Regions from separate parts of the Homo sapiens genome. Here region 2 is linked to region 1. Evidence: fine-mapped expression QTL. Tissue or cell type: skeletal muscle. Region 1 holds a variant in brackets; the other region holds the start of a gene. All regions are shown on one strand. Distances are between the middles of the regions.

Region 1 (8,107 bases):
TCCTGATCTGGGTGAGGGATGATGTGTGTGGTATATACTGGATGTGGTATTTCCTTTCTTTTTTCTTAGGTGGATTAAGAGCTGTTTCGTCAGGCCGGGCACGACAAAACAGGGATCACGCCTGTAATCCCAGCACTTTGGGAGGCCGAGGCAGGTAGATCACAAGGTCAGAAGATTGAAACCATCCTGGCTAACATGGTGAAACCCCGTCTCTACTAAAAATACAAAAAATTAGCCGGGCGTGGTGGCAGGCGCCTGTAGTCCCAGCTACTCGGGAGGCTGAGGCAGGAGAATGGCATGAACCCAGGAGGCAGAGCTTGCAGTGAGCCGAGATCACACCAGTGCGCTCCAGCCTGGGCGACAGAGCGAGACTCCATCTCAAAAAAAAAAGAGCTGTTTTGCCTCTGCATCTTCACAACACAGCCTAAAACAGCCTCAAACACAGCCTAAAACAGCACTTTAGGAGGCCAAGGTGGGTGATTACTGGAGCCCAAGAGCTCAAGACTAACCAGGGCAACATGGTGAAACCTCATCTCCACAAAAAATACAAATCAATAAACAAATTAGGTGGGCATGCCGGTGTGTGCTTGCAGTCCCACCTACTCTGGAGGCTGAGGTGGGAGGATTGTTTGAGCCCAGGAGGCAGAGGCTGCAGTGCCACTGCACTTCAGCCTGGGTGACAGAGCAAGAGCCTGTCTCAAAAAAAACAACAACAGCAAAAGATGAACATACGTGCATGTTTATATAATATATAGGTAGATGATATTAGTGTAACTGTATAACACTATGTGAAAAATGAAGCTTTAGTCCCCTTGGAACACACAGGTGAGTATGACTTGTTCCCTGCTTCAAGGGGCTGGTGATCTAGCAGAGATCACAGATGTGGAGCAGGTAAACTAACAAGATAGGCAATGCAACAGGTGCCAGGCCTGTGGAGGCCCAGAGAGGTTGCACCCAGATGGATGAGTTTCCTAGATTTCATTAGCTTCTTCACAAGCGCTTTAGTGCCCAAAGCCAAAGGACAAAGTAAGAGGGAGGAGCATGGAGAGGCCCACAGCAGGAGGACTTACGGGAGATGGGACTGAAGACGAAGTGGTTTCGTGTCCTTCAAATTAGATTGTCTAGGTACTTGTCTTTCCCCTCCACGTAAGATGACTCATTCTTAGTATATTCATGTGTAAAACTGCTTTGGATTTTAGGTACATGGAAGACCAGGATCATGTCACACTAGTGTGTATTGCACAGCATATGACATAGAACTATGTTGAAACAGTGCTTAGCACATGACTTTTGGAGACGACAGAGATATGACCAGGCAGAACTGTCCTCAGGTCAATTTCTAAAGTGCATGAGAGTACTCTGGTTCCCCCAGCCCATCCTCTTGCCTTCTTGTACTCATTCTCCCCCGTCCCTTGGCCCCTCTCTATGTTGCCTTTTAGCTTCTCAGAGCCTCCTTGCTTTGGGTCTCACCCAGACCTGACACCTTTGCCGAGACCTCTCTAAATTAGCCTTTCGTCCCCTCTCCTACCTGTCAAACTGCTCTCTCATCTATCCACCAAGGGGAGGGCTATGTTGTTAAACTAACACTAATGTATGAAAGCCCACATTGCTAGCTAACACTTGTACTATCTCATAAAAGTTAATTTTTAAAAGAGGTGCTTTCAAATTTCAATAAGCAAAGGCTACAGCTGAGATTATTTTCTTTTTGCTTTCCTGGCCTCTGAAGTTATGCTTTCAGGAAACTGCTTTCTGTCTAAGTGTTAACCCAAGCTGGCCCTTAGATGCATTTGTTATGTTCAAGTGCCCTCTGGAGGCAAAAATAGTCTCCTGTTAGATAAAAGACATGCCTGCCAATGACCCACAAATTACTGGCCCCTGTGCTGTGGGGTCCATTCATTCCCGTCTTTGTGCATTCCCAGCACAGCCCTGCCTCAGGGCCTTCAGCTTAGGCATGGAAAATTCTTTGGCCTGGAATAGCTGTCCCAAAGACTGTCCCATGACTGATTCCTTCATACCATCCACTTCAGCTCAGCAGTGCTTTCTCAGCCGTGCACCGCATCTAGCCAAGTCGACCTTCCCATTCTGTCATGTAGCGCTGTTTCCTTGTCTTCCGGCACTCAGCACTATCTGAAATAATCTTCCATTCACTCAACACGTTCATCAAGTGCCTGACCTAGGCCCTGTCTCATGCACTTGGGATAGATCAAGGTACAAATGCAACAAGTTCCCTGCCCTGGCGGAACGTACAGGTCTTGGGAATCACATTGTTTCCTTTTTCATCATCAGCCTCCCCGCTGGAATGTAAGCTCAGTGAGAGTAGGGATCCCTCATCGAGGGGGCAGCCTCATTTACTACCTTATCCCAAGAGCCTGGAACTGTGCCTGGTACATCCTTCATGGTCAATCAATATTTGTGGAATGAATAAACAAATGTTTATATTAGCCAGGCACAATGGCTGAGGTGAGAGGTTAGCTTGAGGCCAGGAGTTGGAGACCAGCCTGAGCAACATAGTGAGACCTCTGTCTCATGAAGAAATTTTTTTAAGTTTATATTTTCTATCAGGATACACAACTAACATTTTAAACTTATTTTGCTGTGACAAAGTTCATTCATTCCATTATCACAAGTCTACAAAATGAGACAAACTGTATACCTCATTATTATTCAAATGATCAATAACAACCATAGTTAGCATTTATTGACCACTAAGTATTAGACACTATAATAGTGCTTTATTTGTATTTTCTCATCTTCACAAAATTTCCTGAGGCAAGTAACACCATTTTTCACTTTTAAGATGAGAAATTTGAGGCTTACAGGAGCTTCTCACTATCACAAAGTCATCAGGTGGGAGAGCCAGCTTTTGAGGACCGGACAGTCGACCCAGAGTCCATGCTGTCAGCCTCCTCCACACAGCTACGTTCACATCAGGAAGTCTGTATTACTCAGCGGCTCCCTCTACCATCCTCTAAAGAAATCCTGCACTCTCTTAGCAGGGCCTGTGAGACCCCTCAAGATCAGCCCTGCCTCCTTCGCTAGTCTCCTTCCCATTACCTCTCCTCCCACCCTGACGGGAGCCCCTGCAGCTCCCAGACACGGCCATGCCTTCCCCCACCTCCTTGCCATCCAATGCTGCGTTTCCTTCTTCCTCCCTGCCTAACTCCTACTCCTACTTCAAGGCTCAGCTCTTGCCCCAAGCTCTAGAACCTTTCCTGGTCCTCTGGGCTGGGTTCTGTGCCCATGCTCTACTGCTCCCAGCCCCCTGTGCCTGGCTTTGTGATTCTCAGTGAACGAAATGAGGTGCGGCTTTTCATCTCCAAATTTCTGGTGCTTAATTGGAACAGAGAGATTGACTAAATACTTTGAATGACAGAGCATTTAAGAATTGGCCATGTTTTACAAATTTAGGCACAGTGAGGCAAACAATCCCATTGTAAATAAGAGGGTTAGTGCTGGGCACGGTGGCTCACACCTGTAATCACAGCACTTTGGGAGGTTTAGATGGGAGGATTGTTTTGAGGCCATGAGTTTGAGAACAGCCTGGTCAATATAGTGAGACCTCCTTCTCTACAAACAAACACACAAACAAAATAATTAAAAATTAGCCAGGCAGGGTGGCACAGGCCTGTGGTCTCAGCTACTTAGGAGGCTGAGGTGGGAGGATCATTTGAGTCTCGGAGCTCAAGGCTGCAGTGAGCTATGGTCACGCCACAGCACTCCAGCCTGGGTGACAGAGCAAGACCTTGTGTCTTAAAAAAATTAAAAAAGGTTAGAATGTGGCCCATGGAAGTCCTCAAAGGTACAATCGCATGAAGCTGAGAAGCAGCAGCATGGAGCAGGGGGTACTCAAAGCATCAACTGGCAGAACCAGATCTTTCCTCTCATTCCCACCCCAAGAGACTTTTCCGATTCATCCAGCTGGAAGCAGAGAGGCTAGGATTTCCCTCTCAGGTGTCTGA[T/C]CCAGAGCTTGCATGCTAATCTCTAAGGCAATGGCATCTCAACTCTGCTGGACCTTTATTTGTGTGTCCTTTCAATGGTTATATTTGCCTGTGTTTGCCCAGAATAACTAATTTAATGAAAGCATTTTAAAAAGATGTTTATAAATGGCTAAATATCTAGTGATAGGTGCCATACAAATATTTAGATACCAACGGTCTAAATCCAGATTATTTTTACTGGGGGAACCATTATTAATGTAATTATAAAATAGTACATTGTGGAAATGTACACACAAGAGAGAAGGAGAGAGAGAAGAGAAAGAGAGAGAAGCTGCATACACTTGCTATTTCACAACAATGATGCAATCCAACAGTTTACAAAGATAATTCCTTTAGACAGATACTGACTAAAACTCACCAGGGGCAGGGCCCTGGGCCCAGCAAGGAGTTAATCACAGCTCCTGGGCCTCAGCAGGGAACACTGAGTAAGATACAGGTACTTGCCCTTGCTGGGCTTGATAGCTCACAACTGTAATCCCAGTGCTTTGGGAGGCCAAAGCAAGAGGATTGCTTGAGACCAGGAGTTCAAGAGCAGCCTGGGCAACATGGCAAAAACCCATCTCTACAGAAAAATACAAAAATTAGCTGGGGGTGGTGGCGCACGCCTGTAGTCCCAGCCATTCAGGACACGGACATGAACCTGGACCCAGGAGTTCGAGGCTGCAGTGAGCTGTGATCATGCCACTGCACTCAGGCCTGGGTGGCACAGCAAGACTCTGTCTCAAAAAAAAAAGTATTTTCCCTTGAGGTTGGAGCCACAAGGACCATGAGTTTAGCAGGGGCTCCTGCTGGCTGCACCAAGCAACTCTCCCAACACTCACTGCTCTCTTCTGCAGAAACAAACTGCTTCCATTTCCCCAAACATGCTCTGCCGGTTCACACCTCTGTGCCTTTGCATGTTTCCTCTGACTGGGATGCTTGGTCCATGCAGAGTGGACATGTGTCATGTTTTTTGGCTGCCTAGCATTGTTTGAAAACCCCGGCTATGTTCTGGGGATTTCCTAACACACGAGTGAGTCCTACCTCTCCAAGGCAGTTGCCAGAGATCCCAGTCAGCCAGGCTTCTATGCAGAGCAGGGTACAGGCACATGACCCAGCCTCCCTCCATCAGCTGCATCTACATGAGATACCAACTTAGAGATAAGCAATCCAAGGCAGTGGACGCAGTGTGTAAGTGATGTACCGGGCAAAGCTGGTAACGCAGGCACACAGCTTTGGAGGAGCAAAGGATACTGGGCTGTGGCCCTGGTATGAGAAGGGGCAGCATCACAAACCATCACATCCAGAGCTCTAGGGGGGCAGCAGCAGTGGTTTCCACTGCAGGCCAGGACTGCAGTGGGCATAGGGCCTTGGTGCAGGAAGCTATTCACGGCATTCCACCTCCCCATCCAGCAAGCAGAAGAGTCACTCTACAACCTTTTAATCCTTTTAATCAATCTCTTCTGTGCTTCTGTTGATTACAACTAAGAGCCTGGCTTAGTTGCAACTCTCCTGGCCCCTGGAGTAGATGATACACCAACTACATTCATCCTCTTAACAAAGGGCCAGATGCCATTTATGTTGGCACAGAGGTCTCCTGTGGGCCTCCCCTGAAACTTCTATTCCATCCCTCATTCATTCCCTCCAGGGATGCCCCCCTACCCACATGCCTCTTGCTGCATACCCACCCCTGAATTATAGTTCCTGGTTTCTTCCTCCTCTGCTTGGACAATGATTTCTGTTCTTTTCTTTTTTTTTTTTTGAGATTGAGTCTCACTCTGTCACCCAGGCTGGAGTGCAGTGGCGCGATCTCAGCTCACTGTAAGCTCTGCCTCCTGGGTGCACGCCATTCTCCTGCCTCAGCCTCCCAAGTAGCTGGGACTACAGGCACCCGCCACCACACCTGGCTAATTTTTTTTGCACTTTTAGTAGAGACGGGGTTTCACTGTGTTAGCCAGGATGGTCTCGATCTCCTGACCTTGTGATCCACCTGCCTTGGCCTCCCAAAGTGCTGGGGATTAGAGGCGTGAGCCACCGCGCCCGGCGACAGTGATTTCTTTGAGGCTAGCCATTGGCTCTTTCACTTCTGCATTTCCAGCAGTTAGTTTGGGTTGACAGCATCCAGCACAGGATAGGTGCTAAAGGGAAGTTTGTCATGGATAGGAAGGGATGCTCCAATTTGGCTTCTGAGAACCAGGAATCAGAAACAGGTGCTCTCGGGTGGCTGCGTCTAACATAGATTTCAGTGAATGGCAGGGATTTCAACAAGCAGAATTGGTTGGGATCATCCTGCCCATATTGACATGTAATTTGCTTTTTAAAAATTATCATAACCCTCAGCGTTTTTCCATAACCTTAATATGCTGTAGGAGACATTCTCAGTTGCCTAACAACACTTCCCTCACCCTTCTTTTTTTCAGGTGTGAGTGGTGATGTTTCAGGGAAGGTGGTCCCTTCCCACAGCCCCAAGGGGATGAGTCCTCATTGCTCTAAACCAGGGATTGACAAACTACAGCCTGCTAACCAAATCTGGCCTACCACCTGTGTTTGTATGGCCTCATACCATACAAAATGCTTTTTACACTTTTAATTCGCTGGAAAAAGAACCAAAAAAAATGCTTTGTAAGAGGTAAAAAATATATGAAATTCAAATTTCAGTGTCCACAGTGACATTGGAACACAGGCATATGTATTTGTTTCCAGTGTCTCTAGCTGCTTTGGCTCTACAAGAGCAGAGCTGACTAGATGTGACATGGACCCCATGCCCTGCAAAGCCTGAAATATTTACTGGCTGGTCCTCTTCAGAAGAACTTTGCTGACCCTATTCTCAAGCGATCATGCTAACACCAGTCTCCTCTGAGTGTTGATTTTTGGGAGGAGTATGAGACCCATTTCTAAGCCAATGAAACACAAGGGGAAGCCTGACAGAGGGCTGCTGGGAAAGATTGTTTTCTCTGATGAGAGGAAGATATGTGAGTGTGCTTCCTTCCTGCCTTTGGATGTTGCATGTGCGGATGTGATAGGCAGAGCTGTGGCAGCCATCTTGCAGTCATGAGGGAAAGGCTAAGAGACTTACAGAGAAGCTTCCCCAGATACTCTTGAGCTGTTAAATTAATCAGCTCTGGAAACTCCTACTTCTAGAATTTTTTAATTCTAGAATTTAAATTTCTAATCAGCAGCCAAGAACATGTAATGGGAACTAAAATTGCATAATCAAAAGGAAGTTTTCTTCTTTCTTGGTTTTTTTTTTTTTTTTTTTCCCAGATGGAGTTTCGCTCTTGTCGCCCAGGCTGGAGTACAATGGAGCGATCTCAGCTCACTGCAACCTTGGCCTCCCAGGTTCAAGCGATTCTCCTGCCTCAGCCTCCCAAGTAGCTGGGATTACAGGCACCCGCCACCATGCCCGGCTAATTTTTTTTTTTGTATTTTTAGTAGAGACGGGGTTTCACCATGTTGGCCAGGCTGGTCTTGAACTCCTGAAATCAGATGATCCACCAGCCTGGGCCTCCCAAAGTGCTGGGATTACAGGCATGAACCCCCGTGCTGGGCCCCTCTTCTTTCTTATTAACTAAAAATACATTTGAGTCAGAGATGTTTTATGCTCTTGATCTATTTGCAACCCCAATTAACTCACTTTGTTAAAACACGCCCCACGTGGTGTCAGGACCAGGGATACATTTTGTGAAATTATTTCTCCTTTTAGTGTCATTAACCAGTGCATTATGGAATTCTGTAGAATAGCAAATGCTCGCTTTTCCATGCAGCCATTCTGTCTGTCCTCTCACCTCTGACCCACATCACACCTGCCACCCATCACAAAGCCAGTTGCATTGAAGTCTCTGACTTGTGCAATCCCCAGTGTAGCAAACAGTCACCTGGAGCAGAGAGGTCAGTGTGTTGACATGTTTGCTGTCTGGAGCCTACATGTAAAATGCTCTTGAGTTGAGCTACCTCTATAGAGAGCAGTGATCCATGTCCCTAAAATGCTGTTCTCAAGAGGCCATAGGATCCCTAGGAAATTACACTCGGAACAAAGTTTGCAAGGACACTTTCTTGATTTAGTGCCAACCAGGTGATTTTGAAATCAGTTCTCTGAGCATCTGAGAGATAGGAAGCATTTTAACATCAGT
Region 2 (8,107 bases), 150 kb after region 1:
AAGAAAATCCCTCCTCAAGAAACTGACTTAACTTATTTTTACAGCTATAAACTGGCTAAGGCAGACTGTGAGCATCTCTTAGCAAGTGATTTTAACAATTTTGTGTACTATAACGATAGGAAAAAATACGGTCAATTAGACATGCCATTGATTTTAAGACAGATCCTAAGTTCAGAGATCACATTAAAATGCGTGATCTCTCATTCTCTGAAAAAAAAAATGAGGCCAGGAACAGTGGGTCACACCTGTAATCCTAGCACTCTGGGTAGAGAAGGTGGGCAGATCACCTCAGGTCAGGAGTTTGAGACCAGCCTGGCCAACACGGCGAAACCCTGTCTCTACTAAAATCAAAAATATTGGCCAGGCATGGTGGCAAATGCTTGTAATCCCAGCTACCCTGGAGGCTGAGGCAGGAGAATCGCTTGAACCCACGAGGCAGAGGTTGCAGTGAGCTGAGATCGCGCCACTGCACTATAGCCTAGGCGACAGAGCAAGGCTCCGTCTCAAAAAAACAAAACAAAACAAAATATATATATATATATTTTACATTTGACATAATTTAGTAGTTAATAATTTTGCTTACATTGCCTTTCATATCTATTTGTTCTGTCAGCTTGGAGAAGGAACAGAACTTTGACACAACCTGTACTATACATTTTGAACAATGGTGAAGGAAGATCAAAATGTGCCACTTAACAGGGTATCTTAGTAGCTAACTGCCAGCTAACAAAACAAAACTCAGGATGACAAGAAGAACCCATCTTACTCACCTGTCCAGTGGGGAGACTTAATCCTATTCTGTCTTATTATAAAACTGCCCTCAGAAGGGTTATCGGAAATGAGTCTTAGGATATCTATACTTTAGAGATTGTAAAATATAACTGTTTAATTCTGAAAAGCTGCAACACAGGTTGGTTGTCTTATTTAATGATTCACTGCTGAGGTGATAACATTTAAATTGACATCTGTTTTCCTTTTTTTTTTTTTTGAGACAAAGTCTCGCTCTTGTCACCCAGGCTGGAGTGCGATGGCCTGATCTTGGCTCACTGCAACCTCCGCCTCCCAGGTTCAAGCGATTCTTCTGCCTCGGCCCTCCCCGGAATTACAGGCGCCTGACACCACACCCGGCTAATTTTTATATTTTTAGTAGAGACGGGGTTTCACCATGTTGGCCAGGCTGGTCTAGAACTCTTGACCTCAAGTGATACACCCGCCTCAGCCTCCCAAAGTGCTGGGATTACAGGCATGAGCCACTGCACCCAGCCAACATCTGTTTTCTGAAAGGAATAAATGTAGTACTTAAGCCACATGAAGCGTTTTAGAATTTTCTTTTCTTCCTATTAAGAGTATTATAAACCCCTGACCTTGTTGGATTCTTTATTTAAATAAGTGGTTGAGAGTCACTGTCTGAATCCATATTATCTCTACTTATTCCCTAGTAATTTCATTCCATCCTAAGGTTTTTAAGTAAATATCATCTGTATACTAATCAATTCCTGAGTTTATGCTTCCAGCCCCAACCCCTCCCCTGAACTTCAGACACACAATTATTTGGCATATCTGCTTGGATGTCTGGTTGGTACCTCAAACATAGTCAAAACAGAACTCCTAATTCCCCAGCTCCTCCTTCAGGCTTCCTATTTCAGTATACGGTTATCACCATTCATTTACTTATTCAAATAAAAAACCTAGGATCACCTTTTTGTCTTAAACAAAGAAATAAAAGATTTATTTGTGAAGGATAAACTGTTTATTCCAAACTAAAGCAACTTATTAATATAAAGTTAGAAATTATTTTTAAAATTTTAGAATGCCAAACTTACACAAAGTTGCAAAAATATAAACAGGTCAAAGAATATCTGTACACTCTTTACCCAGGATCCACCTATTGTTAAAATTTTTATCCCATTTGCGTTATCATTTCCACTCTCTGAATATGTGTGTGGGTGGTATATACAATTTTGTTTACCTGAGACAATTTTTTTTTTTTTTGAGACGGAGTCTCGCTCTGTCACCCAGGCTGGAGTGCAATGGCACGATCTCGGCTCACTGCAACCTCCATCTCCCAGGTTCAAGCGATTCTCCTGCCTCAGCCTCCCCAGTAGCTGGGATTACAAGCACCCACCACCATGCCTGGCTAATTTTTTGTATTTTTAGTAGAGACGGGGTTTCACTGTGTTAGCCAGGCTGGTCTTGATCTCCTGACCTCGTGATCTGCCCACCTCAGCCTCCTAAAGTGCTGGGATTACAGGTGTAAGCCACAGCACCCAGCCTAAGCCTGTAAGGATGTTATTACTGGTTATCCCTAGAGAGTGAGGGGACCTTTTGCCTTTCTGCTTCATCTACTTTCATGGGTTTTTGTTTTTGCTACAGCTATGTACTATCTAAGATATTTTAACAAAATAATAAAGATATTTCTGTGGAGGGTTGAGACTACAACTAGTAATCTCTAAGCATTTGGGAGGGCCACCCAACCCTTCCCTGATGAACTCCCCCATACACTGAGTAAAAAGCTTTGCTAAATAATAGAAAGACTGACCTTTGTGTGGTGTAAACAGTAAGTTGATAATCTAGTCTATGCACATACTTTGCTTTATAATTGTTTTTTTCTCTTAGACTGTGAATTAATTTACGTAGAAAACGATAATCTAGGCCGGGCGCGGTGGCTCATCCTTGTAATCACAGCACTTTCAGAGGCTGAGGTGGGCGGATCTCAAGGTCAGGAGTCCAAGACCAGCCCGGCCAACATAGTGAAACCCGGTCTCTGTTTAAAATACAAAAATTAGCAGGGAATGGTGGCACTTGCCTGTAGTCAGTCCCAGGTATTTGGGAAGCTGAGGCAGGAGATTCACTTGAACCCAGAAGGTGGAGGCTGCAGTGAGCCAAGATCACGCTACTGCACTCCAACCTGGCAACAGAGTGAGACTCTGTCTCAAAAAAAAAAAAATTAATAAAACGATGATCTAATGCTGCACCATCCAATAAAGTAGCCACTAGCCAATGTGGCTACTGAGTGCTTGAAATGTGGATAGACCAAATGGAAATGTCCTGTAACTGTAAAATAGACACCAGATTTTAAAGACGTTGTACCACAAAAAGACGTAAAATAATATGTAAGCAGTTTTTCTAAATGTGGCTACTAGAAAATTTAAAATTACAGATATGGCTTACTTTACATTTTCATTGGACAGATCTGATACAATTTTACAGAAGTGAAAAGAAATAAACTTGACCTTACCTGGATAACATCTCATTTTCCTGCTTGTATGCAAAAAGCGTTTTTCTTCTCAACAGATGTTCCTTGAGTTTTTGTCTTCTTTGCTCTAGATAACAAAGGTAAGAGCTACAAGTCAATATTAGTTAAAACATCGATAACGGCAAATAAATCTTGTTGACTAAATGAAGAGTTTACTTCCAAAGCTGGTTCCACCTGAGGTCACATCTATATAACAGAAAATTCTCCAATTCAATATTGCCTTTGAGAAATCACCTTAGAAGAGACTGTTACCACAACAGGTCCCCAAAACCCCTCTGCATAAGAATCACATTCTCTACTCCCTGTGAAAAATCTGGAGAACATCATTTTCTACATACAGCTCCTGCTAGCCAAGCTTTAAGAAACTAAATGGTAGAAGTGAGGCACTAGACTCGAAAGTTCTAATTTACCAGAACTGGGTTAGATGAGAATTACTTTCTTCTGCTTTCCCGTGTGTAGAATAAGGGAATAACAATATTAGTTTTGAAGACCCAACCAACCCTCGGTTTCCATAAAGTCGAAGGAGAAGCTGTGAAATTGGAAATAACACATGATGCGACCCCAGCCCTGCAGAAATTCGCTAGGGACCTAAGAGGCGGAGGACCCAGCGCAGGCGCAGTCGGTCCCTGAACCTGTGCAGCCCCGCCCCCAAGCGGACCCAGGGTCTCCGACACCGACCCCGGCCTGAGGCCCGCGCGTTTCCCCTCGCCTAACGGATTCCTTCTTAGGAGGGCCCATCCCAGCCAGCAGCGACCGCACAGTAACACCACGCAGCGGTTCCTGTTTTTATGATCCGTTCCACAAGGCCAAGAATGAGGCAGGGCGAGGCCGACGCCGCGTTCAGGGATCTCACAGAGCGGGGGAGAGGTGAAGCGCGCCAGCGCGGCCCCGAGCCCCGACCGCCGGGCCCGCGCCCGCCACCGCCACCGCCACCGCCACCGCCACCGCCACCGCGGCCTTCACCTTTGAATGCGGACTGCGCCCTCTGACTCGGGGGCAGCTGCAGGTCCTGGGGCACGGCCGGTGTGCTCATCGTAGCCTCGGGTCGGGGGATGCGTCTCCGCTTTAGCGCCAAGATAGAACTTCCTCAGACCACCGCCGCCGCAGTCTGCACCGCGGCTAAGCCGTCAGACGGCGCGGCTGCCGTCTCCGCCCATTGGTTCCTGCGTGAATTGAATAAGCCAATGGGCGTAGGGAGGCGGAGCCTGGACTGCAGTTGCCGGGGCCGGTCTGGTGTCTGCCCAGTTCGGTTGGGACTGAGTCTGCAGGTTTCAAACCTAAACAGCGCTCTTCATCCTGGACGTGCGATGGGGGAGGAGTCGGCCTGCTCAGTCCCCACGACATAGCAGGACTAGGTTGACAAACAACCGAGATGGGACACATCTTGAGACCCTCACAGTCCTTGGAGGAAGGCAGACGAGAAAAAGACAAGAAAAGTGTTGATTGGCTGCCCTTCTTATTAAACATCGACGCGTTCACTGACGAGGACGTAAACACCGATCTGGCGTACCACGAGCGTGTGTATTTTCGTTTCACAAATACTGCTTCATTTTGAGCATCAATTCTGAGGTGGGACGTTATCACCACTTTTTCCACTGAGAGGTGACAGGTTCAGAGGTTGTTTGTCCACGTTTGCACAGCGTGTGAAGGGGAACTGAAATTGGGATCTACTTTCCATACCTTTATTCTAAGCAATTATCAAATGCAAAAAAGGGAGGAGAGGAGGAGAAACAGAAAAAAATGAAGATAAACCTCATCCCCTCCTCAAGGTTATATATAATTCTCCTTTGAAGATAAAATAGCATTTGTTACAGACGTTTTGTGTTTGTGTGGTTAAGTGTGCCGCCATAATCTTCGTTTTTCTCATCTAAAAATACCACCTTCATAAAACCCACACAAACACTCAATCCACATGACAGAACGAAACAAGTCAGGGCTAGAAGGTTTTAAGAGTGGCAGTGGGGAAGTGAGGGCGAGTCTGGACTGCACCTGCCTGGTTTCAAGCACTGGGTTTACATTTCTTGCCTGATCACTGCAGTAAGGCTGGACTGGACTCTTTCAGCCAGGTTTTAGGTGCTCCGGGCACACAGACGGGAGGATGTGATTTCCCCGTTTACCCTTCCCAGGTCTGAGGGCCTCCACAGCTGGCCCTCGGCTGTGGTCAGTTTTTCCCACTTCTGCCTGCTTTTTTCTTCAGACATCTTATGGTAGCGTCTTGCTAATGAGGAATTTGGTTTGAGATTTTGTGTAGTTTTTTACTTGATGAAATGTCCCAGTTTTAGTTTAACATTGTCCATCACCATCCTTAAGATATAACTTGCTGTTTAAATACGTCTGTCATTATTGTTGATTATTTACTAAAGTTTCATCAGACAGGTGGGGCAACCAGGGATTTCTATTAAGTGAGAACAAAATACAGCGTTAATAAGTGACTCAAAAACCTCCAAAACATTATGCTAAGTAAAAGAAGTAATATATGAAAAGTTACATATGGTATGATTCCATTTATATGAAAGATCTAAAATAGATACATCCATAGTGAAATAACTCAGAATAGTAGTTGCCAGAGGCTGAGGGTAGGGGGAGAATTGGGAGACAGTTTAATGGACAAGGGTTTCATTACCTTGAAGTAAGTGAAATGTTTTGGAATTAGAGGTAGTGGTTGGGTGACATTGTAAATGTATTAATGCCATTGAGTTGTTCACTTTAAAATGATTAATTTTATGTTATGTGAACCTCAATAATTTTTTATAAGTGGGCATGGTAAAAAAAGAAATTGACTCAAAGGATACCATGGAGATCTCAGTAGGCTGAGATGAATAGGAAAACCTGCCAAACTGCTAGGTTTTTCAAAATGGCAATTCTCCTCTAATCTCCAGACTCACCCACTCCAATGATATGTCTATTTTTGAGACACTTTTTAATATTACTGCTACACAATTATTGCAGAGAAAGCAGACCTTTTTCTAAAAGATCCAAAAAACAAACAAAAAAAACAAAACAAAAAAGATTTCCTTTCAGAACAGTTCTTTGCCAACACAGCTGACCATGAAACTGCAGGCACCTGGAGTACTGATGATTAATTAGTGTTAGTCGTTCCTCCTGTGGTCATGTGAAGAAGGTAAAGTGCCTGTGAGAGAACAGGGAAGGACAATCTGAAAGTTAGGAGGACAATGGGGACACAATGGGGTCACAAAGTCTGGGGAAGAGAGAAGCTGAAGAAAGAGGTAATGGACCACAGTGTTGGGCACTACAGAGGTCCAGTAGGATTGGGACTGAAAGGAACCATCTGATTCAGAAGGTGGGAGGTCCTGGCAAAAACATCCTGGGGATGGCTGGGCGTGGTGGCTCATGCCCGTAATCCCAGCACTTTGGGAGGCCAAGGCGGGTGGATCACCTGAGGTCAGGAGTTCAAGACCAGCTTTGCCAACATGGTGAAACCCTGTCTCTACAAAATATACAAAAGTTAGCCAGGCGTGGTGGCAGGCACCTGTAATCCCAGCTACTCGGGAGGCTGAGGCAGGAGAATCGCTTGAACCCAGGAGTCAGTGGTTGCAGTGAGCCGAGATTGTGCCATTGCACTCCAGCCTGGGCGGCAGAGTGAGACTCTGTCTCAAAAAAAAAAAGCATAGACCTAAATGTAAGAACCAAAACTATGAAGCTTCTAGAAGAAATTATAGGAGAAAATCTTAGTGACTTTGTGTTAGGCAAAGATTTCATAATCAGTATCAATATCTGGTTTGTGGAAAAAAGATTTCTTAAATAGGCAAATTCCATGAACTATGAAAGAAAAAAATACACTGAACTTCATAAAAATTAAAACCTTTTGTCTATTCATTTATTGCCATATATAAGCCACATGACGTTTCTCCTTGCTCCAGCCTGGATACAGGAAACCCTTATACGGTTGTCTATCCCAGCAGCTATCATATGCCAGGCTTCTATTTGTGTCCTACAGACTGTACATCCCTCAAGGGCAGAAAACATACCTTGCAAATGTCCTCACTGCCTAACATGTTGATAATTGCAAAGCCCAGGCATAACTGCACAGTTCCACATCTGATTAGGATGCTTAGGTCACATTACTTTCAATTAAAAAAGACTAAAAAGTTGGTAAACAATCAAATGCTCAAAAATCAGGCAATGATGGTAAATTGTGATATATATTGATAGCATATTACAGCAAATCAAATGTTTTCAAAGAACTTTTGGTTATTGGGTATATGGTCATGATGGAAATTGAAAGATATGAAATACAGAAGACACTGTTTAGAAATAGACCAAAATACACACAGGATTTTGGAACACGGTAAAAGTAGCAATTCATTTCGGGGGAGAGATGGCTTATACTCATTGGAAAGAGCCTTTCCTTTCTTTTAATGCCTAGCCACAGACCACTGACTCCACGACTGGGGGAAATGTGGAGCCCTGGGGGCAGAGAGCAAGCCTGCCCTCTGTCCCTCTGCCCCTGTGCCCCTCTGCCCACGTGGGCACGCAGCCTTAGTTAAGACCCCAATAAGTGGTAGGCTCTCTAAAATGTGTTCACAACCTTTAAAGCAGTCATTCTATTTTAGGAAGACACTGTAAGAAAATAATCCTAAAGAGAAAAATATGTATCAATTGTAGAAGGACATCTATAAGCTGCTCCATTTATTTATTTATTTATTATTTATTATTATTATTTTTGAAGCAGAGTCTCGTTCTGTCGCTCAGACTGGAGTGCAATGGTGCGATCTCGGCTCACTGCAACCTCTACCTCCAGGGTTCAAGCGATTCTCTTGCCTCAGCTTCCCGAGTAGCTGGGATTACAGGCACCCGCCACCACGCCGGGCTAATTTTTTGTATTTTTAG

Which allele goes with the higher level. Alleles are on the strand shown, and positions count from the first base shown. SD is a standard deviation of normalised expression in the study named.
With allele T in place of C in region 1, the expression in skeletal muscle of the gene that starts at base 4,500 in region 2 is higher (moderate effect, 0.44 SD a copy in GTEx).

Evidence for each region. PIP is the estimated chance that this variant, and not a neighbour inherited with it, causes the effect.
Region 2: it holds the start of CKAP2-DT, and the variant in region 1 is fine-mapped to the expression of CKAP2-DT in skeletal muscle (GTEx, PIP above 0.99).

Annotation. Positions count from the first base shown.
Region 1 is chr13:52,603,221-52,611,327 of GRCh38, reverse strand. No RefSeq gene overlaps it. Among named protein-coding and RNA genes, the nearest start is that of LINC00345, 6.9 kb to the right of the region's middle. The variant T/C (reference allele first, on the strand shown) is at 3,960.
Region 2 is chr13:52,451,739-52,459,845 of GRCh38, reverse strand. It overlaps CKAP2-DT (CKAP2 divergent transcript), which reads left to right and starts at 4,500. Exons shown (of 1, transcript NR_185890.1): 1 at 4,500-5,071. CKAP2 (cytoskeleton associated protein 2) reads right to left here and starts at 4,368. Exons shown (of 9, transcript NM_018204.5): 1 at 4,220-4,368; 2 at 3,239-3,323. The coding sequence starts at 4,289. RefSeq lists enhancers at 4,668-4,747, 5,038-5,217.